7 linked regions of the Homo sapiens genome follow. The protein of the gene in region 1 purifies or fractionates together with the protein of each later gene. This does not show direct contact. Each region holds a gene or a part of one and is shown in the gene's direction. Other genes may lie near its edges. The genes, in order: SYNJ2BP, TOR1AIP2, TSC22D3, CS, ESYT1, FLOT1 and PRPSAP1.

Region 1 (3,500 bases):
TGCTTTTTGTTTTACCCTCACTCCCCTGAAGAGTTTCTCAGGCAAAGGGAGGGGTCCATTGGTACTTCTGCTTATCATTGAAGGACATTCAGGCCAGGCACGGTGGCTCACACCTGTAATCCCAACACTTTGGGAGGCCAAGGTGGGCGGATCACTTCAGGCCAGGAGTTCGAGACCAGCCTGGCCAACATAGCAAAACCTCATCTCTACTAAAAATACAAAAAATTCAGGCACGGTGGTGCACACCTGTAGTCTCAGCTACTTGGGATGCTAAGGTGGGAGGATTGCTTGAGCCCAGGAGGTAGAGGTTGCAGTGAGCCAAGATCATACCACTATACTCCAGCCTGGGCAAGAGAGTGAGACCCTGTCTCAAAAAAAAAAAAAAGAAAAAAAGAGAAAAAAAAGAGAAATTCACAACAGTATGGCTTATAACCAAGGTCCTTGCTTCAAGATAATATGCCTTAAAGATAAAGCTTGACAACCAAATTAAAACAGATGATTAAAGAAAAGCCAGGTGTGGTGACTCACATCTGTACTCTTAGCACTTTGGGAGGCCAAGGTGGTATGATTGCTTGAGCCCGGGAGTTCAAGACCAGCCTGGGCAACATAGAGAGACCTCATCTCTTAAAAAAATAATAATAAAAATAAATAAAAAATTTTAAGAGTGACATGGACCAATGGAAAATAAATAAATTAATTAATTAAAAAGATGGTAAAAAAACGTAGCCAATTTTACTTTTTGGTAGGGAAGGAACCATATGTCTACCGCTGAAAACTTATTTATAAAACCATTGGATAAAACACTACAAAGATGGTGGGTTTTCTGGTACCCACTATATGCTTTTCCCTGTCACTGCCATGAACCCTTCATTTATCAACTTGGTGACCCTCTTAACCAAATCTTTAGTGTTCATAGGAGAACTCCAGGAAAAAGGAAATGGAATTCAGAATTCAGTCAAGGCAGCACCTATCCCTGCATCTGTTTCTTATTTCCAAGTGTTTTATAATTTGGATGATGATGTAAAGGGAAGCCTGGGTAGATATAATTCCTCCTATAGCATTGAGAATTTCTGAGCATATTCACAAAACAGGTTCCATGTGCCTTTAAATTAAATCAATTTGCTACTTCTTAAATAGGTGCACTCTTCCTCACTCAGTGGCTAAGGATTTAGAAGCTTAAGAACATTTAGAGGAGTTCCTAAAAAAGTAGAGAAGGCAGAACGTGAAAGATACCTGAGAAAACAACCAGTTGCAAGCAGAATCTGGGTGTAATGGATTAGAAAACAGGTTAATAAGAGATAATATTGGTCATCAGTTGCTTCTGCCTTGGCTCTTCTCTTTCTAAAGCATGGGAGCATTTGTGCAGTAGATAAAAACAAGTAAATATAGGGACACACTTCAATATGATTACAATTCTTTTGGAAGGTATGTGAGAAGTTATTTCCAGTGTTCACTTTTAAGGAAACATCCATAAATAATTCCTAATAAAAAAGACCCTTATGTTCAGGCAATTGGCCTAGCCCTAAAAACCATGCCTTCTTATTGAGCATGTCCTTTCAGGACAGCTCATCAGCAAATGAATGAAAAACATAGAGGTGGAATAGAGGGTATAATGGTATTTCATGCAGTCTTGCCTTTCAGATTGAAGTGTCAGTTTTATGAGTTGTAATGAGGCAGTTTAACTGAAATACGATGATGCCATAATTATTGCAAGTTAGCCACTAAAAGTTGATATTAAGAAGAGCTACCCTGAAAACCATCACTAAAATGAAGACCATCCAGCCTCAAAAGGAAACACTTAGCCAATAGAAAATTATAAGCACTAGGATATAATTTCTTTTTGCTTTTTTACATCTGTTCCATATAGATTCACCTTCATCTCTCTCTAGTATTAGAAATGAGCAGATGAAGGGCAAAACCCCATCTTTGGAGGGAGTTGGGTGCCTTCTGGGATCTGGAAAGCATTTTTCAAGTAATGGCATTGGACGTATGTTGGTATTGCACCTATGTTGACATTGCCCACATCTGCTCTTACTACATTTTGATGACTGATTATCTAAGTAAACATTTCCAGAAAGATCCCCCTTCTTCCTCACCAAGTAATATCCAAGTTCCCTATAAGATCATAGGTTTTATCTCATGTCTTCATTTTCCTGATACGATACACAAATAGCAAGGTAGAGGCAGTACAGAAACAGAAATTACCTGACTTGCCCTCACGGGTCCCTTTAGGTCAGCAAGGTTAAATGCCTCCCCATTAGACCTATTTTCTTTCCAAAGATCCTGTGACACTGATGCATCAGCTCAGGACAAAGAGAGGACTCCTTCTGCTAGGTATTGCTGGGGGTTACAGTTTTGGGTGGTCTAGAGTCTACAAACCCAGGTGATGTATCAACCTGGGCGTTTCAGTTGCAAACACACATTAGTCACTAGAGTTAACATTTTTCTTTCCCTTCCAGTTACAGGTGCAGAATGGACCTATAGGACATCGAGGTGAAGGGGACCCAAGTGGTATTCCCATATTTATGGTGCTGGTGCCAGTGTTTGCCCTCACCATGGTAGCAGCCTGGGCTTTCATGAGATACCGGCAACAACTTTGAAAAACTTGCTCTCTTTCAATACTCCCAATGAAGATACATTTCACTCACCCTCCACCCCTGCTATTCTGCCATGTCTTTCCCTCTCTCTGCATAGCCAGATTTGAAGTGACTGATACCCACCCCAAACCTTGCTGTTCACAGTCTCCAATTCTTCATATTCTAATGGGAAAGTAAAGGTATTGTTTGAAGGAAAACTGAAGAAAAGACTTGGCTTAGAACAAATGAGGAGTTATATATTTTACTAGGACTTTTGATAGAAATTCAGCTACAACCCAAAGAGAGAAAGATTGAGTCTTCCTGTCACCATAGGCAATACCTTTTTTCTTAGCTGGCATGCCATAAAGGCCAGCTATGTGATATTAGAGGAAGAAAGGATTTTTCTTTTTAATGATCTTCCTTGGGAAATTATTGTGGCCTTTATTTAATTTCTAACTACGTACCTGGGTGCCTATATCGACAAAGAGTGAGAAGAGCATTTTTACTTTTTTAAAAAAGCAAATACATATATACACATACGTATGCAAATATTATAGTATAATAGTGATCCCTATGGAGAATTAAAGGTGAGAAAGCTACTTTGTGGTGTCTAGGTTTCTGATAAAAGGGATGATCTTAACTGAAGAATTTAAAGAGATACTTAAACAGAGCAAATGTAGTAGGAACAAGGGAGTGAGCCTTATAAGAGGACGTTCAGTCTCATTTATTAAAATAATAACTGAGACTGGGAGAGGTGGCTCATGCCTGTAAATCCCAGCACTTTGGTAGCCTGAAGTGGGAGATTGCTTGAGTCCAGGAGACCAGCCTGGGCAACATAGCAAAACCTCATCTCTATTTAAAAAAAAAATAGAAAAAAATGTAATAACTGAAGCAACTAATTAAAAATCTTAGAAGAACAATATT
Region 2 (3,500 bases), on another chromosome or scaffold:
TACATTCATTTATTTTTTCATAAGCTTTTAAGTTAAAATATGGAGTTCTTACTATACACTAGGCACCGTGTAGGCATTGGGGATCAAAGTTTTTAATGTGTAAATTTAAATTTTACAAAAGAGTACTGAGAAAAACATAAAGACGGCCAGTTGGCTAGCCTTCCAGCTAGGCTGTCAAAAAACTATAACACTTCACACAGGTTTTTCTTATATATTTTTGTATTTAAGCCTCATAGATATCATTATTCTCATTTTCATAGGGAATAAATATTAAGTAACTTTATTGATCAATTTGTTTTTGACAAAAAAAAGAACTATAAAATATGACTGTTTTTATTGCTTATAAAGTGCCTTTGATTTTGATTCCTTTTGTGTAAACCTTAATAATTTTCTTTGTCTGTCTTTGAGCATTGCATAAAAAGGCATTGTATAAAGGAATATCTGTCTCCATATTTTACAAAAGAATACTTCGAGAAAACCACTTCAAAGTCAGTCCAAATGTGTAGTGGTACACCTCAAAGCAGCCATCTCAGTTTGTGGGAACCTCCTGTGCATTGTTACTTTTTAATATAAGTGAAAGCTCCTGATAGGCAGACTATGAGAAAATTATCTGGGACAGAAATTGAAGACATCCAGGAAATCTGCAGTGATTGTTTCAGCAATGACTTAAATTTCTACTCTTAGATTTATTTTTTATTTTAATTCAAGCTAGTCTGTTGAAGATTCTGGTCACTTGATCTTACTTTTTATACTCTTTCAACTATGCTGGAATATATTAGATTATGAAATTCATGAAAGATTAATAATCTGGAGCTTTTTTCAGTAGTCTAGGATTTGGAATATGATTCTCATGAAAGGAAATTTTCTTCACGAAAAAAGTTTCACAGAGGAAATAGTACTCAAGCTACACATATTTAATAAATAAAGCTGATACTTGCATTTCTCCCTTGTATGGATAAAAAGTCATTTAATTTTTTTTCATTTTGTTTTAGTCACTGTATATATGCCTTATTTCCTGGGTCCATGGGAAGCATGAGTCTGTTGGGACTTGGGACAAGAAGAAAACAAGACATCTTCACAAGGAAAACCAAGTACTAAAAAAAGTATCCTCCCAACTCTGAAGAGATAGAACACAAACATGGCCGACAGTGGACTTAGGGAACCTCAAGAGGGTAAGACTGATTTGTCTGGCACTGAGGTTGCTGCTGTAGGAAACCAGGGGTGTGCAGAGAGAGAAAATCTCTGATGACTAAAATCTGAGGTTTTGAAGTAAAAAAGCTAATTCAGTGGGTTCATTTGTTTTGATTATACTTATTCTTTCAAATTTACTGAATTTTACTATAATGCGAGACCCTAATTATAATATAAGGAAGATAAATGTTTTAGAGACTCCAATAGTAAGGACTTATAGTAATGGAAAAATACAATGCTTCTTTAAAAAATGATGGTAGACAAATCTTTAGAGTTATATATATCCTGTGATGTGCTATATTTAGAAGGTATCTTTCTTCTTCCTCTTCTTCTCCTTTTTTTTTTTTTTATGTTACCCAGGCTGGAGTGCAGTGGCGTGATCTCAGCTCACTGCAACCTCCGCCTCCCGGGCTCGAGTGATTCTCATGCTTCAGCCTCCAGAATAGCTGAGATTACAGGCGCCTGCCACCACACCCAGTGAATTTTTGTATTTTTAGTAGAGACGGGGTTTCACCATGTTGCCAGGCTGGTCTTGAACTCCTGACCTCAGGTGATTCACCTGCCTTGGCCTCCCAAAGTGCTGGGATTACATGCATGAGCCACCACATCTGGCCATTCTTACTTTTATTAAAGAAACAAAGTCTTTTGGAATTTCCCACGTGCTGGGTTTTGCTGATTATATTCTTGAGGCATAATTTAATGTATTCCTGTATCCCTATATTTCTTGGAAACTGGTTGCTCTAGAAACTTACCAGATTTAAGTTTAGTTGTTTGGCAAAAATACTTCCCAAGTGGTCTAGAGTACTTCTTACTGCATTGTATTAGAAAGTAAATGATATCTGTTTGGGTTTCCCTGTTTTCATGATGTGAAGATTGGTCGCTGGGTTCAGCAGTTGTCAGTCTGGCTCATCCACTATAAAAGTCCCTATCAGCCTTTTGCATAAGGTTTTGCTACCATTGATGAGCATTGCCTTTCATTAGGGAAGAGGATATATTTAATATAGCCAAAAGTTTGTTCTGTCATATAATTTGTTTTATATTAGTGTCATTTTATATTTATTAACATGATAAGATTTTTTTTGTTGTTGTTTTAATTGCCTTTAGTGGGAGCCAAGAGAAATAATGTTTAGGAAGTGTCTTGTAAACCATGAAAATCTATGTAAATATTATTATTAAACAGGGACCTTGTTAAAATATAAATTTATGGGGAATTTTTTCCAATAAAAATTATAAACTTTTATCTCAATAGACTCTCAAAAGGATTTGGAAAATGATCCATCAGTAAATTCTCAGGCGCAGGAGACCACAATCATAGCAAGTAATGCTGAAGAAGCTGAGATCCTACACTCTGCCTGTGGTCTTAGCAAAGACCACCAAGAGGTAGAGACAGAAGGTCCAGAAAGTGCAGATACAGGTGATAAATCAGAAAGTCCAGATGAAGCAAATGTGGGGAAACATCCAAAGGATAAAACAGAAGATGAGAACAAGCAGAGTTTTCTGGATGGCGGAAAAGGGCATCACCTCCCTTCAGAAAATCTGGGTAAAGAACCCTTGGATCCAGATCCCAGCCATTCTCCAAGTGACAAGGTAGGAAGAGCAGATGCACACTTAGGGAGCAGCTCTGTGGCCCTCCCTAAGGAAGCGAGTGACGGAACTGGAGCATCTCAGGAACCACCTACTACAGACTCCCAGGAGGCCCAGAGTCCTGGTCATTCCAGTGCAGGGCAAGAGGGTGAGGATACACTGAGGAGGCGACTGCTGGCCCCAGGTAAGAGAACCCCCTGAACTACTCTCCTGTTTTGTACTGCTCTGTTAACTGAGAACACAGCAGAAGTCAGAGGCCTTCTTTCCAGAGAACTTTTGTCATCTTTCATAGGAGTAAGGCCTTTGGGCCTTGCCCAAGCTCACACCAAGCCATGACTGAGTTGATTTTAGAATGAGGTTTCTCATCTAGGCTAGCTCATTCCACTATATTAAGTTGCTTCCTACACATAAACTGCATTTCTAAGCATGTTTTTATTAACTGTTTATATTAATGTGATATGACAAAAAGGGGCATGACTTTTAAAAAATTCGCTTCTGGTTTTTTATTTCTTATGAGAATATTTCGACTTACAATTTTTAAAATCTTTTACTTTTTGGGAAACTAAATGTTACATAAATCAAGAGATGGGTATATTTAAAAATGAGCATTAATGGGACAGTATCCTTAACTCAGTCATGTTTCAGTTTTATAGGACTTTGAGTAAGACAGTTAGTTTCTCTATACGTGGTTTTTTCTGCCTATATGTTAAGAGGAACAAGCATGT
Region 3 (3,500 bases), on another chromosome or scaffold:
GATATACCTCTTTTGCTTATCCATTCATCTGTCAGTGGACACTTAGGTTGTTGCCCTCTTTTGGCTATTATGAAGAATGCTGCTATGAACACTGGTGTACAAGTATCTGTTCAAGTCCCTGCTTTTAATTCTTTGGGGTATATACCTAGGAGTGGCATTGCCCAGCACCTACTTTTCAACACAATTTTGTGGTCTACTGCTCGTAGTCAACACATACGTAGGAACCTGTCATAAAATGAGCAAATGTCTCAGGGCATTCCTTGAGGAGAATGCTCCCTCTCTAAGCCAGCTGCTGGTGCTAGTGATTACAACGAAGAGAAAGCTACAAAGTTTGGCAAAGTGATGGTGCTGCCTGGGAATGGACTTTTTATGGGGGAAATGACATGCTTTGGAGATTGCATCCATGAGTTGGAGACTGGCAAAAGTTTTAGTGTGTATCTCTCATGAATGGCCAAGGTCTAGCATACCTTTTTAAAGAGTAACATGTGACACCATTACTTGCCATTAACTACTTTGTATGGATTTGTTTATCAGACCTCTGGTCATGGTGACAGCCCACTGGGAATAGGGTCCTATGGGACTGGAATGTGGCAAAGCCAACTTTGGAGGAGAGAGGTAGAGAGATGGGGCTGGAGTCCATGGAAGGCCTAGCTTGGGCTGTTACAGCACGGGGCCTGGACAGCATGAGAGTTCAAAAGATCTGTTTGGAAAGTTCATGCTCTTAAAGAAAGGTGGGAAGCACAGAGCTTGAATTTCATCTACTCCTCAGTTTTTGCCAGGAGTGGACTATTATTTACTGAGTCCACACCTCAGCAAATAATGCTTTCCAGGGTGACCTTAGTTTTCTTCCCTGCCTGAAGAGAAGGTTAACACTCCTGCTTATATTTGCACTTGCAGATAATCCAACAAGCTCTCCATTCCAGGTAGAGGGTTGGCTCCTTTCCAGATCAGGTACTGAAGGCCAGGGAGTCTGGGTAAAATGGAGATGGATGTATCTGGCCAAGACTGCCAAGACCTCTAGGCATCCCGGGTGATGGAACCCTGCAGAGTTCTTGCCCCCACCTGGTGGGTGGGTTGGTTGGGAGGAATGAGTTTGGCCATGTCTGCACCTGGTGGTGGCTGTTGCGCTGTTTGCTCATCGTGATTCTGCTCCTACCTGAACTTTCTCTTCTTCTTATGTAAGCCATCCCTAGAGATAACTGTAAAGCCATAATCTGCCATGGCTGGCTGGGCTTATATAACAAATTGGTTGGTATCGTGCAATAGCCTCTTGAACCCTGGAGAAACCAATGTGCTAAGTTGAGACTAAAACATGGGTTCATTTGATGGGGTATTTTGTGTGCTCAGTGAACTCAGGGGAGAGGAGTCCATGACCACAGGGGTCAGAAAGATGAAATTTCCTTTTAAATAAAGAGAACAATAATGGCCCAGAACATACTGTGCTGTCCCAAAGTCTGCAATAATGGGACAAGGGTTAGGGCATTGCTGTAGCACCACAGCTTTGGCAGAAAAGGCCCTCCACAGAACCCCATGGGCTAGGAGGAGCCCCATGAAGGCCAGAAGGCTAGATCCCAGTTTCAGGGCAACCTAGGTTTGATGAAGAGTCAGGTCAGGGAAAATGTCTTTTGGAGGCCACTGTCTACCATGCTGAAATCCAGCTTAACTAGAGTTGGAGTGGGGCTAAGATGCGATCTGTGAGAGCAGAAAGCAAGCTTTTCTCGATTCTATTCCAGGCAGGAGGGAATTTCATCAGTAGGCAAGGCAAGTTCACTTGTACCTTCTAGCTGAAAATTCCTGCCCCAAAGTAGCTGTGGCCCTTCTGGAAACTGTATAAGAGGCATTAAGATCCCAGCCAGCACAGAAGACTGAATGGGAAGCTTCCCATTGTGCAGACACTAGCCCGAGGGAAAACAAGAGCTGGAAGCAGGCTGGATCACTGATGATCCAGGCTCACCATTGGCCTTCCTCTCCTGGGAGCCACTTTCCTCAAATAGGTCCAGCCAGAAATCGGGCCCCTGCCTATGGACAGAGCACACAGGGACCTTCCCCATCCTTCCTCGAAGGAAGACTTTACTCACAGAATAGGCTTGAGTATTCAACCCACTTCTTCTAATCTTCTCTTCAGGGGAGATGGAGAGCAGCTGTTCACAGCTTAGGGGTCTGGCCAGGATTCCCGCTCCGTGCTATCTAGGCTGGTGATTGGCTAGAGCTATCCCTAAGGAAGAAGGGGGTGAGAAGTGAGAGGAAAGGAAGCGACTCCAGCAGCTCCTTCCTGGCTTACCCCACTCCCAAGACACCCCTCCTTCAGCGCTGCCGTTTAGCCTCACTCCCAGACTAGGCTGGGCCTAGGCCAGCCTGAGGGCCCTGACTCATAACTAGCACATCTTATGTAACAGCCAGGTTACTGAGGCATCACACTTCTGCTTGCTCAGTGGTAGGCTTCCCTGGGGACAGGCATTTGGAAGCCTGCTGGGGGTCCAAGTCAAGCTCATCATACTTCCCAAGGAAAAGCCTACTCTCCCCAGTGTCAGGCAAGCAGTCTGCTCAGAGGCAAATGCCAGGCAGCAAAGCCTGACCCGGTCCCACACTCAGCCTCCACACTCAGCAGTAAATGTAAGCAGACAGGCAAGCTGGAGTGGACTTAATTTGGCTTGAGGCATTTTGGAGGTGGCAGGGAGGAACCTACTATCACCTGATAATGCACTGCTAAAGAAACTGCGTGGTGCATGGAGAGGCCCCAGAACAGGTCGCAGAAGTCCCTCTTCCTTTTGTATCTGCTTGTTGGTTCAGAAACTACTGGGTGGGTTGGGGTGGGGGGAGTTGTTGGGGGGGGGGCGGAAACTCCAGGCTGACTGACACCAGGTGAAAGGGTTTACCGGAAGGTGGAGGAGCTGTTTAAAGGAAGGCCTTTCAAGAGCCAATTCCCAGTCCACGCTCCATGAAGTCTCAAAGTCCCCAGGTTGACCTGAATTCACAGTGATTCTTAGCTCTCTGCCTGGCCTATTCAGAAAATTACATTACCGGCTTAGTGGAACTGAGCCCCCAGTGAAGTCAGTATTGCCAGATTCTATGACAGATTTCTCTAATAACAAATGTGACTATCTACAGCACAGAATACCCCCATCAATCTAATATTCCACTAGCTCAAGGTTTGTAACTAAACCAATAGCTCCTCTTCTTCTCTTCCTTTGTCTTTTCCCCAGCCTGTCTCACGTGTGTTGCCATCAAGTAAATGGCTCACAGGCTGTGAGTAGGTGGGGACACTGCTCTCCACTCCAAGAAATAGAGGAGAAACAGGGAAACAAAGTCAAAAAGGTGGTGTGGGAATTACCAGCAGGCATGATTTGTATCCAAAGCTGACTCATAAGTTCTTGGACAAGCTCAAGACTACCATCTCAGGGCTCAGAAGAGCTTGGCACCCTTAGTCCCCCAGATCACAGAATCCAGTGAAAATTAGGGGACCTGAGATGGAGATGCAGAATTTTCCTTTGTGGGACTCC
Region 4 (3,500 bases), on another chromosome or scaffold:
CGGAGTTTGCAGTGAGCCGAGATCGCACCACTGCACTCCAGCCTGGGCGACAGTGTGAGACTCCGTCTCAAAAAAAAAGAAAATTAAAAATTGTATTCTGGGCTAGGCATGATGGCTTGCCCCTGTAATCCTAGCACTTTTGGAGGCCAAGGTGGAGCATTGCGTGAGGCCAGAAGATCGGGACCAGTCTGAGCAACATAGCAAGACCCCACCTCTACAGAAATAATAATTAACATAAAAAGTTCTACTCTAACTTGTTGTAAGGTCTGATGAGTAAGACCAGTCGTGTGACTTCTAGGCTATAAACTTGAGTTGTAATTCTCTCTCTCCTCTCTCAAGGGCATCCGTTTCCGAGGCTTTAGTATCCCTGAATGCCAGAAACTGCTACCCAAGGCTAAGGGTGGGGAAGAACCCCTGCCTGAGGGCTTATTTTGGCTGCTGGTAACTGGACATATCCCAACAGAGGAACAGGTAAAGCAGAAGGATATTATTAGCTCTTCTCATTCCCCTTCTTCATTGCCTTTCTCTAATCTCAGACACTTAATGCTGATCCGGCATTTATAGAGATGCGTAGTGAAGGGAAGGAATCAGCAGAGTTCTGCTGTATAAATGGATTGGGTTGACCTCTCTTGGGTTTTCTTTACTCAGATGTTGCTGTCCTTTTTTATTTTTCTCCTTCCTTGTCCTTGCTGGTGTTCTGAGCACTGTCTCTTTTTCCACAGGTATCTTGGCTCTCAAAAGAGTGGGCAAAGAGGGCAGCTCTGCCTTCCCATGTGGTCACCATGCTGGACAACTTTCCCACCAATCTACACCCCATGTCTCAGCTCAGTGCAGCTGTTACAGCCCTCAACAGTGAAAGTAACTTTGCCCGAGCATATGCACAGGGTATCAGCCGAACCAAGTACTGGGAGGTAGGAAATTTGGGTGGGGTGATCGGTGTGTGATGGGGATTCAAAGGACTTGAGTGTGAAGGGAGGGAAAAAATACAGAATCTTTAGAAAAATTACCTCTGAGTTAATCAGAAACTAACTTAACAGATTTTCATTGGAGGCTTGTTTTTTGTCAGTTGTTGGAATTACAAAGCTAAGTAGAGCATGGTTTCTATCACCAGGACTGTTTGTTTGGTTAGGCTGACACACGTGCAGAAAAAAGAAATTATTAAAATTCCATAGTCGGCCGGGCACAGTGGCTCATGCCTATAATCCCAGCACTTGGGGAGGCCAAGGCGGGCAGATCACGAGGTCAGGAGTTCAAGACTAGTCTGGCCAATATGGTGAAACCCCATCTCTACTAAAAATACAAAAATTAGCCAGGCGTGATGCCGGGCGCCTGTAATCCCACCTACTCAGGAGGCTGAGGCAGAAGAATCACTTGAACCTGGGAGGTGGAGGTTTCAGTGAGCCGAGATCGCACCACTGCACTCCAGCCTGGGCAACAGAGTGAGACTCCATCTAAAAAAAAATTCCATAGTCTTGCTGTAACAGAGGTATGTACACATGGCTGTTGAAACGGAAAAGAGACCTAGGTAGGTGGCTCACACCTATAATCCCAGTGAGTCATGATGCTGAGGTGGGAGGATTGCTTAAGGCCAGGAGTTTGAGATCAGCCTGGGCAACATAGTGAGATCCTATCTGTACATAAAAAAGGAGAAAACAAGAAAAGAAAAGGATGTGACTTAACTGCAGGGTCCCTGAGGAAGGTTTCACAGAGCAGTCTCATGCTAGCACCAGAGGGTCACTTTCCCTCACTATCTTCTTCAAATACAGAAAACTTTGAGAAATCTTACAAGTTGGGAGAACAGCAATTGCAACTCTGGAGTCTAGGAGGACTAATGCCAGTCAGTCATGTTCTCGGCTAGCCAACCTAAGATACCCATCAGGAGTGGGAGAGTGGTTAGTATCCTTGGAGTAGGCTCCAGATCCAGAAACAAATGAGCTTTATTCTCTGAAAATGAAAAGTGTCCTTAATAGTTTACAACGCTGGTTGGGGTATGGAAAGATTGTTTCTTATCCCAATGCATAGTACATAATTCCTTCCATCCTCTTCTAGTACCCCACAAACTCAGAAACACTGGGTAAAAGTACAAATGATCTGGCTAGGTTTACAGGAGAATGTACCATTTTCTTTTGTTCCTTATTTGGAGATAGGTAGTATAGGAACAGAAAATTTTCTTTTTACAAAGCAGGTACATTAAATGATTTTTGGCCAGGAGGTGCCAGCCACCAGGAAGGCCCTAAAGAGTTCACTGTGGTGCAAGACACAGAAGAGCATGACCCACTGCTCTGATGCAACCACCTTGGGTCCTTGGCAAATCTAGATTGATTTAGTTGGTCAATATTAATTTGGCACCAACTGTGTGTAGAGAATTGTGTTTGCAGTTGAGGAAGACAGAGAGCATTTAAAATTGATATTAACTTGGTTGGCATTGGGGAGTTGGTATCAGAATGATGCAAAATATACACATTCACACCACATAAAGCATTTATTTATAAAGGCTTATTTATAAACACTTTAGGTGGTATGAATGTGTATATTTGTACCTGCACACATTAGCAGGTACAAAAGGTCATATAATCTTAATATTTTGTTTTTCATTTTATTTATTTATTTATTTTTTTGAGATGGAGTCTCGCTGTGTCACCCAGGCTGGAGTGAAATGGCATGTGAACCACCGTGCCCAGCCATTTTTATTTTTATTTTTTTAGAAATAGGTCTCTCTCTAATCACCCAGGCCAGGATGCAGTGGCATGATCATAGCTCACTGTAACCTTGAACTCCTGGACTCAAGTGATCCTCCTGCCTCAGCCTCCCAAGTAACAAGGACTACAGGCACATGCCACCATGTCTAGCTGGCATTACAGGCGCACACCACCACTCCTGGCTAATTTTTTTGTTTTTTTTTTTTGTTTTTTTTGGGAGACGGTGTCTTGCACTGTCACCCAGGTTGGAGTGCAATGGCACGATCTCAGCTCACTGCAACCTCCACCTCCTGGGTTCACACAATTCTCCTGCCTCAGCCTCCCGAGTAGTTAGGATTACAGGCGCACACCACCACACCCAGCTAACTTTTTGTATTTTTAGTAGAGACAGGGTTTCACTATGTTGGCCAGGCTGGTCTCGAACCTCTGACCTCGTGATCTGCCCACCTCGGCCTCCCAAAGTGCTGGGATTACAGGCTTAAGCCACCACGCCTGGCCTTGTCTTTTTAATAGAGTTTCACCATGTTGGCTAGGCTGGTCTAGAACGGCTGGTCCAGAACTCCTGACCTCAGGTGATTCGCCCACCTCTTCCCCAAAGTGCTGGGATTATAGGCGTGAGCCACCACCCTGGGCCTTTTTGTTTGTTTGTTTTGTTTTGTTTTTTGAGATGGAGTCTCGCTCTGTTGCCCAGGCTGGAGTGCAGTGACACAATCTCAGCTCACCACAACCTCTGCCTCCTGGGTTCAAGCGATTCTCCTGCCTCAGCCTCCCCGGTAGCTGGGACTACAGGTGCGCACCACC
Region 5 (3,454 bases), on another chromosome or scaffold:
CAGAGCGAGACTCCGTCTCAAAAATAATAATAATAATTTCTGAAAGTTTATGAGGTAAAGATGGTCCACTCTACTCTGGTTAAGAAAGGAAGGACAGGCCAGACACAGTGGCTCACACCTGTAATCCTAGCAATTTGGGAGGCTGAGGTGGGTGGATCACCTGAGGTTGGGAGTTTGAGACCAGCCTGACCAACATGGAGAAACCCCAGCTCTACTAAAAATACAAAATTGGCTGGGCGTGGTGGCAGGTGCCTGTAATCCCAGCTACTCAGGAGGTTGAGGCAGGAGAATCGCTTGAACCTGGGAGGCGGAGGTTGCGGTGAGACCAGATCACGCCATGCACTCCAGCCTGGGCAACAAGAGCGAAACTCTGTCTCAAAAAAAAAAAAAAGGAAGGAAGGACAGAGGGAGGGACTAGCAACTGTTACCATGGCTTCCCTGCCTTTCTCAAAGGGAAATCTCACCAAACCACCTATGAGTCCAAGCGTTTGGACCTTTAAAACACCAGGATTAACTCATTTGTTGATGCATTCGCCTCTTGATCATGGTCCTGTTGCCCCACAGGTTCGGGGTGAGGGCACTGGCGTGCTGGGCTCATTATCCCTGCCCCTCTCAGAGCTCCTCGTGGCTGACCAGCTCTGCTTGGACCGCTGGTTTACACTCAGCAGTGGTCAGGGGCAGGTGCTACTGAGAGCACAGCTAGGGGTGAGTGACAGGAGATGGTGGGCAGGATGAGAGGGAGGAGGGGAGGGCCTTCACAGGTGAGGGACACCCAGGAGGGTGGGAACAGAGGGCCGTGTCCTTAGAGTGAGGGAACTGAGAGAACTCTGCCCAGCTCACAGCTTTCTTGCCCCTAGATCCTGGTGTCCCAGCACTCGGGAGTGGAAGCTCATAGCCACAGCTACAGCCACAGCTCCTCATCGCTGAGTGAAGAACCAGAGCTCTCGGGGGGACCCCCTCACATCACCTCCTCAGCCCCAGAGCTCCGGCAGCGCCTAACACATGTTGACAGGTAAAGGGCTGGGACAGGAAGGTGGGACGCAGTCAGAAATAAAAAGTATTACAGGTTCACTAGGCTCTAGCTTTCCCCAGACCTACTGATATTTCTCCACAGTCCCCTTGAGGCTCCAGCCGGGCCTCTGGGCCAGGTGAAACTGACTCTGTGGTACTACAGTGAAGAACGAAAGCTGGTCAGCATTGTTCATGGTTGCCGGTGAGACCCCATCCCTCCTGTCCTCCAGATCGCCTCCATCCCTTCCCTCAGGTTACCATATCACCTACATCCTCCTGTTGTAGGTCCCTTCGACAGAATGGACGTGATCCTCCTGATCCCTATGTGTCACTGTTGCTACTGCCAGACAAGAACCGAGGCACCAAGAGGAGGACCTCACAGAAGAAGAGGACCCTGAGTCCTGAATTTAATGAACGGTCAGTCAGTGGGCATTCAGGTGGAGAGATGGCAGGCTTGGAAAGGACTCCTGGCCCCTAACATCCAGTCCTACCCCAGGTTTGAGTGGGAACTCCCCCTGGATGAGGCCCAGAGACGAAAGCTGGATGTCTCTGTCAAGTCTAATTCCTCCTTCATGTCAAGAGAGCGTGAGCTGCTGGGGAAGGTAAGAGGGCAGGATGGCAGGGCAGAGGTGAGGGCTGGAAGCTGCTGGCACCAAGGTTATAGTCCCTGTGAGGAAGGAAGTACCCCACGTGATCCTTTAGAGGTGACTCACCTCTGCAATGGTTTGGGACGAGTATGTGATGAAGGAACATGGTCTTTGGAGATTTCAAAACAGCATCATCAGAATGAGATCCTGTCTCAAAAAATAAAAGAAATAACATCTTTCCCCTATCATCTTCCAACACAGGTGCAGCTGGACCTAGCTGAGACAGACCTTTCCCAGGGTGTAGCCCGGTGGTGAGTGTCTGCGTGGGTGGGGGATGGTCTGGATATTTCAGTGGGAGAAATTCCAATCACAGGAAAGGAAAAAAAGATACAATCTGAGCAGAGAACCATTGATTCTATCAAGTAGAGAAGCCCTTGGATCGTGTCTCATTTATAAATATGATGACACAAGAGTCATCTTTCTACATGAGCCCTCTTTTCACAGGTATGACCTGATGGACAACAAGGACAAGGGCAGCTCCTAGGAGCTGGCGAGTCCCAGCCTGACTGCTCTGTCTTCCTGCCTTCGTCTCGCTCCATCACCGCCTCAATGTGATGAGCCTAAAGCTAGGGTCCAAGGGCAGAGCCTGTGCCCTTCAGCCCTTTCACCTAACAGGCCCATATTCGGGCCTTTGCCTGACCAAAGAGAAGAACCGTATGTTCCCTTTACTGCACGGCCTTTATCCTTCTGGGCCCCTGGGGCGGGGACCTGAGCTGGCTGTTTCCTGCTTTGCCTGCACATTGTTCTCCCTTCCTCCCAACTCCTCAGGGCCTTCTGTATCTGTGCCTGGCCAGTGGCAGCACTAGCAGTGGTATTAGCTTATGCCAAATACAGCTTTGGAAGGATCTTTTTTTCTTTAACTAGATGGTCACCTTCTTCCCTACCACACATGGGTGGGAAGGTGGACAGGCTAACCTCTCCAGCTGTGAGCCTCTTAGACTACTGCATGTAGCAAATGTTCAGCAGCTCAGGCCCCCATGTCCAGTTCTGTCCCCACTGTCCTCAACCCTGTCCTGAAAATTCTACTGCTTTGATGGCTGGGGCCAGTCTCTTGTCACTTTGGAAACTGAGGACGCGTGGATTCTACTCAAGCCTCCAAGTAGTGGCATATCAGTCTTGGAGCTCCTAGCTGGTGATACGGAGAGGGCTTTGGAGGACTTGGGACAGCAGGGCCAATTTTTTTGCCCAAGTGCCTAGGCTGCTAACTCACTGACTAGAACTTAATCTGGTACTTTACAGTTTTGCACCAACTCTGCCAAGCCACTGGATCTTACATTAAACATCATACTCAAACCAGCTGTGGTTCTTTTCCTTAAGGATAGGGAATCAATCTACCCATCTGATGTTTATTCCTACTGTCAAAAGCCTTTATCCAATTCGTGAATCATGTCAGTTTAATTAATGGTCAAAGCCTACTAAGGTTGCAGCCACCAAGAATGTTGAGGATGGTCAAGAGACCTGTGTAAAGTAGCTGCTGTTGCATTTCAGGTGAGACTCATTTCCAGTCACAGTGATGAACTCTGTTACCCATCCAACTTGTCTGCTGACCACTATAGGCTTTCCAGGGAAGGGATTCCTAAACCTGGTAAACCTGGGAGCTCTGTGCCACTGCACAGGCTCCTGGTGTCTCTGTGCCACTGCACAGGCTCCTGGTGTCTCTGTGCTGTCAGGGCATGCTCAGCTACATTCAAAAGGGCTTCAGGCCCATCTAGCAGGAGCTGAGAAATACACCCATTTCGATCATCTGTACACCTTGAACTCTGCTCCTTGCAAGAACTTTCCTGGAATGCAAGCTA
Region 6 (2,739 bases), on another chromosome or scaffold:
GAGCCTGAGCAATGGGACAACGAAGGCATGTGTTCTGGCTGGGTGTGATGGCACATGCCTGTAACCCCAACACTTTGGGAAGCCGAGGCAGGTGGATCACGTGAGCCCAGGAGTTTGAGATCAGCCTGGGCAACATAGAAAACCCTGTCTCTACAAAAAGTACAAAAAATAGCCGGGTGTGCTGGTTCACACCTGTAGTCCCAGCTACTCTAGAGGGGGAGGCGGGAGGATCATCTGAGCCCAGGCAGGTCAAGGCTGCAGTGAGCCATGATTACGCCATTGAACCTGGGTGACAGAGTAAGATGATGTCTCAAAAAGAAAAAAAAAATGTGTTCCTTGCCTGGCACCTCTCCTCACTAGCATCTTGATAAGAGCCTTCTGATTCCCTCACACTGCAAGGAATAAGAAGATGAAATCTAGGCTGGGTGCGATGGCTCATGCCTGTAATCCCAGCACTTTGGGAAACTGAGGCGGATGGATCACTTGAGATCAGGAGTTTGAGACCAGCCTGGCCAACATGGTGAAACCCCGTCTCTACTAAAAAAAATACAAAAATTAGCCAGACATGGTAGCACATGCCTGTAGTCCCAGCTACTTGAGAGGCTGAGGCAAGAGATTAGCTTGAACCTGGGAGGTGAAGGTTGCACTGAGCTGATCGTGCCACTGCACTCCAGCCTGGGCAATAGAGCGAAACTGCCTCAAAAAAAAAGAAAGAAATCTGCCTAAATAAGAGGAATTCTATGAATACACACATTCTTGTAGATGTTCAGAGTATCCCTGGAAGGATACACAAGAAGCTGGTCTTGGTGGTTTCTCTGGGAAAGGGACCCAGGTGGTTTGGAGAATGAGGAAGAAGCCTCGTGGTTCACTTTTTTTTCTGTTAAATCTGCACCATGTGCAAAAGACAAAAAAGATCACCTGTCCCCACCCCCACAAAAAATAAGTCAGCTATTGCAGTAGCCTAGGCTAGCACTAAGGTTATCGCAGCAACAGTGGGGGGATTTGAGCAAGACTGGAGATAGCAGAAAGCCAACATGTGCTCAGTGCCCTCAAGGTATTTATACTCTAGAAGGGGGCACACGTGGGAAAAATAGATTAAACGGGGGCTCATCAGAGAAACACTGGACTCCACTGGACTGGCCAAGCAGACAGGAGGGAACCCACCTTCATGCACCTGCTCCTTTTTTTTTTTTTTTTTTTTTGGAGATGGAGTCTTACTCTGTTGCCCAGGGTGGAGTGCAGTGGCGTGATCCCAGCTCACTGCAACCTTCGCCTCCCAGGTTCAAGCAATTCTCCTGCCTCAGCCTCCCGGGTGGCTGGGACTACAGGCATTCGCCACCACACCTGGCTAATTTTTTGTATTTTAGTAGAGACAGGGTTTCACCATGTTGGCCAGGCTGGTCTCGAGCTCCTGAACTCAGGCAATCCACCCTCCTTGGCCTCCCAAAGCGCTAGGATTACAGGCGTGAGCCACCGCGCCCGGCCACCGGCTCCTATTTTTATATCCCACTCTGGAGCTCTGGTTCCCGGGCACTTGCTCTTCACCTCTGACTCAGAGCGTGAACCTGACTTCACCCTCCTACCCAGGTGGCCAAGACTAAGCAGCAGATTGAGGAGCAGCGGGTGCAGGTGCAGGTGGTGGAGCGGGCCCAGCAGGTGGCAGTGCAGGAGCAGGAGATCGCCCGGCGGGAGAAGGAGCTGGAGGCCCGGGTGCGGAAGCCAGCGGAAGCGGAGCGCTACAAGCTGGAGCGCCTAGCCGAGGCAGAGAAGTAAATGTCCCCTCCCTGACCCTGCCTAGCTCACTTGCCACCTAGGCACCCCAAGATGGAGTGCTGAAGCCTTCACCACCTGGACTCCTATGGATTTCAGGTTTCAGGAGCGTCTGCCTCTGCAGCACTGGGCCTTTCTCCTGGGAGTAAGGGCTGCTGGGCTCCACCCTCCACTTCCCTTCTGTCCACAGGTCCCAACTAATTATGCAGGCGGAGGCAGAAGCCGCGTCTGTGCGGGTGAGTTAAGAGGCAGTTCCATGCTGGCTTGTGGAGAGGGTGGGGGTTGCTGCTTGATCGGGGATTTCTTGTTCTTAATGATTTCCGTCAATCTCACAAGCATCCTTAACCCTCAGATGCGTGGGGAAGCTGAGGCCTTTGCCATAGGGGCCCGAGCCCGAGCCGAGGCTGAGCAGATGGCCAAGAAGGCAGAAGCCTTCCAGCTGTACCAAGAGGCTGCTCAGCTGGACATGCTGCTAGAGAAGCTGCCCCAGGTCTGGAGGTCATGTGGGCACCAAGAAAGGAGGAAATAGAACCAGGGACTAAGGGGTGGGGTGTAGTGAGGGGCTTAGGGAGAAACAGCCTAGGGGGACTCTAAATTAGGGGTGGGAATTATTAGTGACCAAAGTGAGGAAGGATGATCAGTGGAACGAGGACCTTAAAACCCAGAGTAAGTTGTTTTATGAGGAATGTGGTCAGATCATGGGCACTGAGTGGGTGTCTCTCTCCTGCCAGGTGGCAGAGGAGATCAGTGGTCCCTTGACTTCAGCCAATAAGATCACACTGGTGTCCAGCGGCAGTGGGACCATGGGGGCAGCCAAAGTGACTGGGGAAGTACTGGACATTCTAACTCGCCTGCCAGAGAGTGTGGAAAGACTCACAGGCGTGAGCATCTCCCAGGTGAGGTCTCAGGTTGGAGCTGAGGAGAATTGCTAGGTTCCTGTGTTGTGTGACACAGTATGCCTAGCATTTA
Region 7 (3,469 bases), on another chromosome or scaffold:
TGGTGAAACCCCACCTCTGCTAAAAATACAAAAAATTAGCCAGATGTGGTGGCACGTGCCTGTAATCCCAGCTACTTAGGAGGCTGAAGCAGGAGAATCGCTTGAGCCCAGGAGGCAGAGGTTGCAGTGAGCCGAGATCGTGCCACTGCACTCCAGCCTGGGAGACAGAGTGAGACTCTGTCTCAAGAAAAAAAAAAAAAAAAAAAAAAAAAAAAAGCGGATAGGTCAACATAACTGCGTGTTTACATGGTTTAATTTAAAAACAGAATCTCAGGAAGCTGCTCCTAATGTTGGTGGTTTGAAACCCCCCTCCCCCCATTTTAAGTGATTTTATATGCAAAGCCTTCTTGTCTTGCCCAAATTCAAGAAGTTGTCTTTGTTTCTAGGATGTGAAATCAGGAAATATATGTTTGTTGAAATGTATAAAGTAGTGGTGAATTTCAGCTCAACTGATTTGCCAGTATACAGAGAAAAACACCTGTTCTTTGAGATACACAGTGCCTGTTGGGAATCTGCAAAAATTGTTTGTTGGTAGTCACTAAACTCTTGTTACCCTGAATTTTATTCTCTTTCGCTTCCCCCACTACTAGCCTAATAAATATTTCAGAATAATAACAAAGTTTAAAGAAAGAATACTTAGCCTGTTCTTCTGAAGTAGTCTTTGTTTTTCTTCTCTGTTTACTAACCTCCTTTTGAGGATAAAATCTTATTTCCTTTCTTTATCCTGTAGTTTCCTTTGTACACTCATAGCCTTTCTTCAGATGCAGATTTTGCAGTCAGATAAAAGTCTCTACTTTAAGCACCAATTAAATCAGGAAAAGATGATGGGCCTGGAGTTATTGTCTTCAAGTTCCTGATTTTGAGGAAACTCTGATTATGTCAGTAGTGCAGTTATCTGATAGTAAGGTTACACTGTCCAAATAAGGTGACTTTGGAAGAAAATAACATAAAGCCATCTCATGATCTGGCAGCCTTTCGCTGTTTCGCTTTCTGCAGAGCGGCATTCCTTCTGCATGTCTCTGTCAGTCTCTGTGAGAGTGGGGTTTCTATCCACACAGCACTGCGGTGCAGCTTCTCCGTGTTGGCAGAATCTTCCATGCTCTGCTGGTTCGTTGTCTTTCCAGCTGTGCTGTGCAGTGCAATGTGCTGGCTGCTGAGCTCATGAGACACGGCCCGTCTCAACTGAGAAGTGCTGTGCGTATAAAACACACACCAAGTAGAGAAGACTTGATAGGAAAAAAGTGTAAGGCTGGGTGCGGTGGCTCATGCCTATAATCCTAGCACTTTGGGAGGCTGAGGTAGGAGGATTGTTTGCTTCCAGTTTGAAATGAGCCGGGGCAACATAGCAAGATCCCCTCTGAGAAAAAAAAGTGTAAAACATCTCATTAATTTTTATATCAGGTTGGGCGTGGTGGCTCAAGCTTGTAATCCCAGCACTTTGGGAGGCTGAGGCGGGTGGATCACCTGAGGTCAGGAGTTCGAGACCAGCCTGACCAACGTGGAGAAACCCCATCTCTACTAAAAATACAAAACTCAGCTGGGTGTGGTGGCGCATGCCTATAATCCCAGCTACTCGGGAGGCTGAGGCAGAATTGCTTGAACCTGGGAGGCGGAGGTTGCAGTGAGCCAAGATCGCGTCATTGCACTCCAGCCTGGGCAACAAGAGCAAAACTCCGTCTCAAAAAATACATACATACATACATACATACATACATTTTTATATCAGTTACATGTTGAAATTATAATATTTTGGGAATTGCATAAAATAAAATGTATTAATTTCATCTGTTTTTAATGTGGCTACTAGAAAATTCAAAGTAACATGTATGGCATGCCTTCTATTTCTTTTGGCCAATGCTGCTGTTTCTGAGAGATTGCAGGTTCATTGAGGGGGAATTTGCATGGTTTGTTTGTTTTTTGTCTGTATAGTGGTTTTGCCACCATTTCCAGGGAATTAGGTTGTGATTACATTTCTCTAGTGATACATGAATGACTGAGATCTTGTAATTTGTTTTGTTTTGCTAGTGATGATGGCCAAAGAGAAGCCACCGATAACTGTAGTTGGAGATGTTGGAGGCCGCATCGCAATCATCGTGGTATGGTTATATGTCATCCATGTGCAGAGGTGGCACTCCTGGCTCTTGGTCAGTAGGTTGTCCACTCTGGGACTGTATTTCTAGGAACGATGATCCGAATGGATCCATGTATCCTTTCTCACCCAAACTCCCTTGTGCCAAGTGGCAGAAACCTGTATCCAGGTGAACATACATTAAAGTATAACCTACAGATAGGAAATGAGCACAGTACTCCCGTGAGAAAATTCAGCACCTTCACCTTCATCATGTGGATTCTAGGTTCTTTAAACCAGCTCACCTAATCATGCTTGAGCGTTAGGGCCGAAAGATGAACTGAAGATGAGCTGTTCCGTTTTCACAAGTAAGAATGGGTGTCCCCGTGCAGACTCGTTCTGCATGTTGACATACTTTTTTTCCCAGCTCTAAATATCTGCTGGCTAGTGGGTCATGAGTCCTTTGCAGTAGCACACTTTATTTCAGTTTTCTTCTCATGTCACAGTCTATTTGAAAAAAAAATAAATGGAACGCTGGCTATGTGGGATTCACCAGAAACGTGAGACAGGAAAATGAGTGTTGGCAATCCTCAGCTCCAGCCGTAATGTCACAGGTGCTTGACTGCGCCCGCCTCTGACAGACACACAAGGTACTGTCAGGTGCTTCTGTTGCCATTTCTGGATGCTCGTTCTTTGACCCAGGCACACAGCTCTGATTTTCCATCAGAAATCCTCTGAAACTGAGTGCAGAAGAGAGTAGAGTGGTGTGTGCATTGACAGTATGGGCTAGAGGGTGTTTCTTTCCTACCAACTCACTCTGTTCTCCTCCCAGGATGACATTATTGACGATGTGGAGAGTTTTGTTGCTGCCGCGGAGATCCTGAAAGAGAGAGGCGCCTATAAGATCTATGTTATGGCCACCCACGGCATCCTGTCTGCAGAGGCCCCTCGCCTGATTGAGGAGTCCTCCGTAGACGAGGTCAGGCTGCTTCTAAATCTTGAGCCAAGATTTACTGCTGTGTTTTCTGGGAATAATAAAATGATTCAGTCAATACTAAATTGCTTAATCTGTCTATAGCTTTTCTAGCTTTTGCTGGCTAGCAGTTCGTTGGGACAGATACATGTTTAGGAATACAGATAGTCCACGACTTACCATGGTTCAACTTAGAAGTTTTTGACTTTATGATGATGCAAAACCATTGCAATTACGATGTAATGTATAGTATTCGATAAATTACTTGAGACACTTTATTTTAAAATAATCGCTTTTATTATAAAATGAAAGCCTTTGCCCTAGATGATTTTGCCACCTGCAGTCTAATGTAACTGTTCTGGGCATGTTTAAGGTAGGGCTAGGCCAAGTTAATGATGTTTAGTAGGTTAGGCGTATTAAATGCTTTT

The links.
Region 2: the proteins of SYNJ2BP (region 1) and TOR1AIP2 fractionate together in Homo sapiens (co-fractionation; one large-scale study listed by BioGRID). This does not show direct contact.
Region 3: the proteins of SYNJ2BP (region 1) and TSC22D3 purify together in Homo sapiens (affinity purification with mass spectrometry; one large-scale study listed by BioGRID and IntAct). This does not show direct contact.
Region 4: the proteins of SYNJ2BP (region 1) and CS purify together in Homo sapiens (co-purification; one study listed by BioGRID). This does not show direct contact.
Region 5: the proteins of SYNJ2BP (region 1) and ESYT1 purify together in Homo sapiens (affinity purification with mass spectrometry; 4 studies listed by BioGRID and IntAct, with this or other methods). This does not show direct contact.
Region 6: the proteins of SYNJ2BP (region 1) and FLOT1 purify together in Homo sapiens (co-immunoprecipitation; 2 studies listed by BioGRID and IntAct, with this or other methods). This does not show direct contact.
Region 7: the proteins of SYNJ2BP (region 1) and PRPSAP1 purify together in Homo sapiens (co-immunoprecipitation; 2 studies listed by BioGRID and IntAct, with this or other methods). This does not show direct contact.

What each region holds. Positions count from the first base shown.
Region 1 is NC_000014.9:70,372,091-70,375,590, reverse strand, and holds part of SYNJ2BP (synaptojanin-2-binding protein), read left to right. Parts: intron 1-2,459; coding exon 2,460-2,600; 3' UTR 2,601-3,500. Other genes in the region: SYNJ2BP-COX16 protein, read left to right, coding at 2,460-2,558. UniProt on the Homo sapiens protein: Regulates endocytosis of activin type 2 receptor kinases through the Ral/RALBP1-dependent pathway and may be involved in suppression of activin-induced signal transduction.
Region 2 is NC_000001.11:179,850,304-179,853,803, reverse strand, and holds part of TOR1AIP2 (torsin-1A-interacting protein 2), read left to right. Parts: intron 1-992; 5' UTR 993-1,138; coding exon 1,139-1,172; intron 1,173-2,440; coding exon 2,441-2,959; intron 2,960-3,500. UniProt on the Homo sapiens protein: Required for endoplasmic reticulum integrity. Regulates the distribution of TOR1A between the endoplasmic reticulum and the nuclear envelope as well as induces TOR1A, TOR1B and TOR3A ATPase activity.
Region 3 is NC_000023.11:107,765,788-107,769,287, reverse strand, and holds part of TSC22D3 (TSC22 domain family protein 3), read left to right. Parts: intron 1-3,500. UniProt on the Homo sapiens protein: Protects T-cells from IL2 deprivation-induced apoptosis through the inhibition of FOXO3A transcriptional activity that leads to the down-regulation of the pro-apoptotic factor BCL2L11.
Region 4 is NC_000012.12:56,279,831-56,283,330, reverse strand, and holds part of CS (citrate synthase, mitochondrial precursor), read left to right. Parts: intron 1-339; coding exon 340-471; intron 472-722; coding exon 723-911; intron 912-3,500. UniProt on the Homo sapiens protein: Key enzyme of the Krebs tricarboxylic acid cycle which catalyzes the synthesis of citrate from acetyl coenzyme A and oxaloacetate.
Region 5 is NC_000012.12:56,141,721-56,145,174, forward strand, and holds the end of ESYT1 (extended synaptotagmin-1), read left to right. Parts: intron 1-564; coding exon 565-705; intron 706-857; coding exon 858-1,012; intron 1,013-1,114; coding exon 1,115-1,213; intron 1,214-1,296; coding exon 1,297-1,428; exon of another isoform or gene 1,429-1,507; coding exon 1,508-1,613; exon of another isoform or gene 1,614-1,805; intron 1,806-1,859; coding exon 1,860-1,909; intron 1,910-2,102; coding exon 2,103-2,142; 3' UTR 2,143-2,954; downstream 2,955-3,454. UniProt on the Homo sapiens protein: Binds calcium (via the C2 domains) and translocates to sites of contact between the endoplasmic reticulum and the cell membrane in response to increased cytosolic calcium levels.
Region 6 is NC_000006.12:30,729,949-30,732,687, reverse strand, and holds part of FLOT1 (flotillin-1), read left to right. Parts: intron 1-1,587; coding exon 1,588-1,769; intron 1,770-1,960; coding exon 1,961-2,006; intron 2,007-2,122; coding exon 2,123-2,260; intron 2,261-2,501; coding exon 2,502-2,666; intron 2,667-2,739. UniProt on the Homo sapiens protein: May act as a scaffolding protein within caveolar membranes, functionally participating in formation of caveolae or caveolae-like vesicles.
Region 7 is NC_000017.11:76,312,448-76,315,916, reverse strand, and holds part of PRPSAP1 (phosphoribosyl pyrophosphate synthase-associated protein 1), read left to right. Parts: intron 1-2,025; coding exon 2,026-2,096; intron 2,097-2,900; coding exon 2,901-3,047; intron 3,048-3,469. UniProt on the Homo sapiens protein: Seems to play a negative regulatory role in 5-phosphoribose 1-diphosphate synthesis.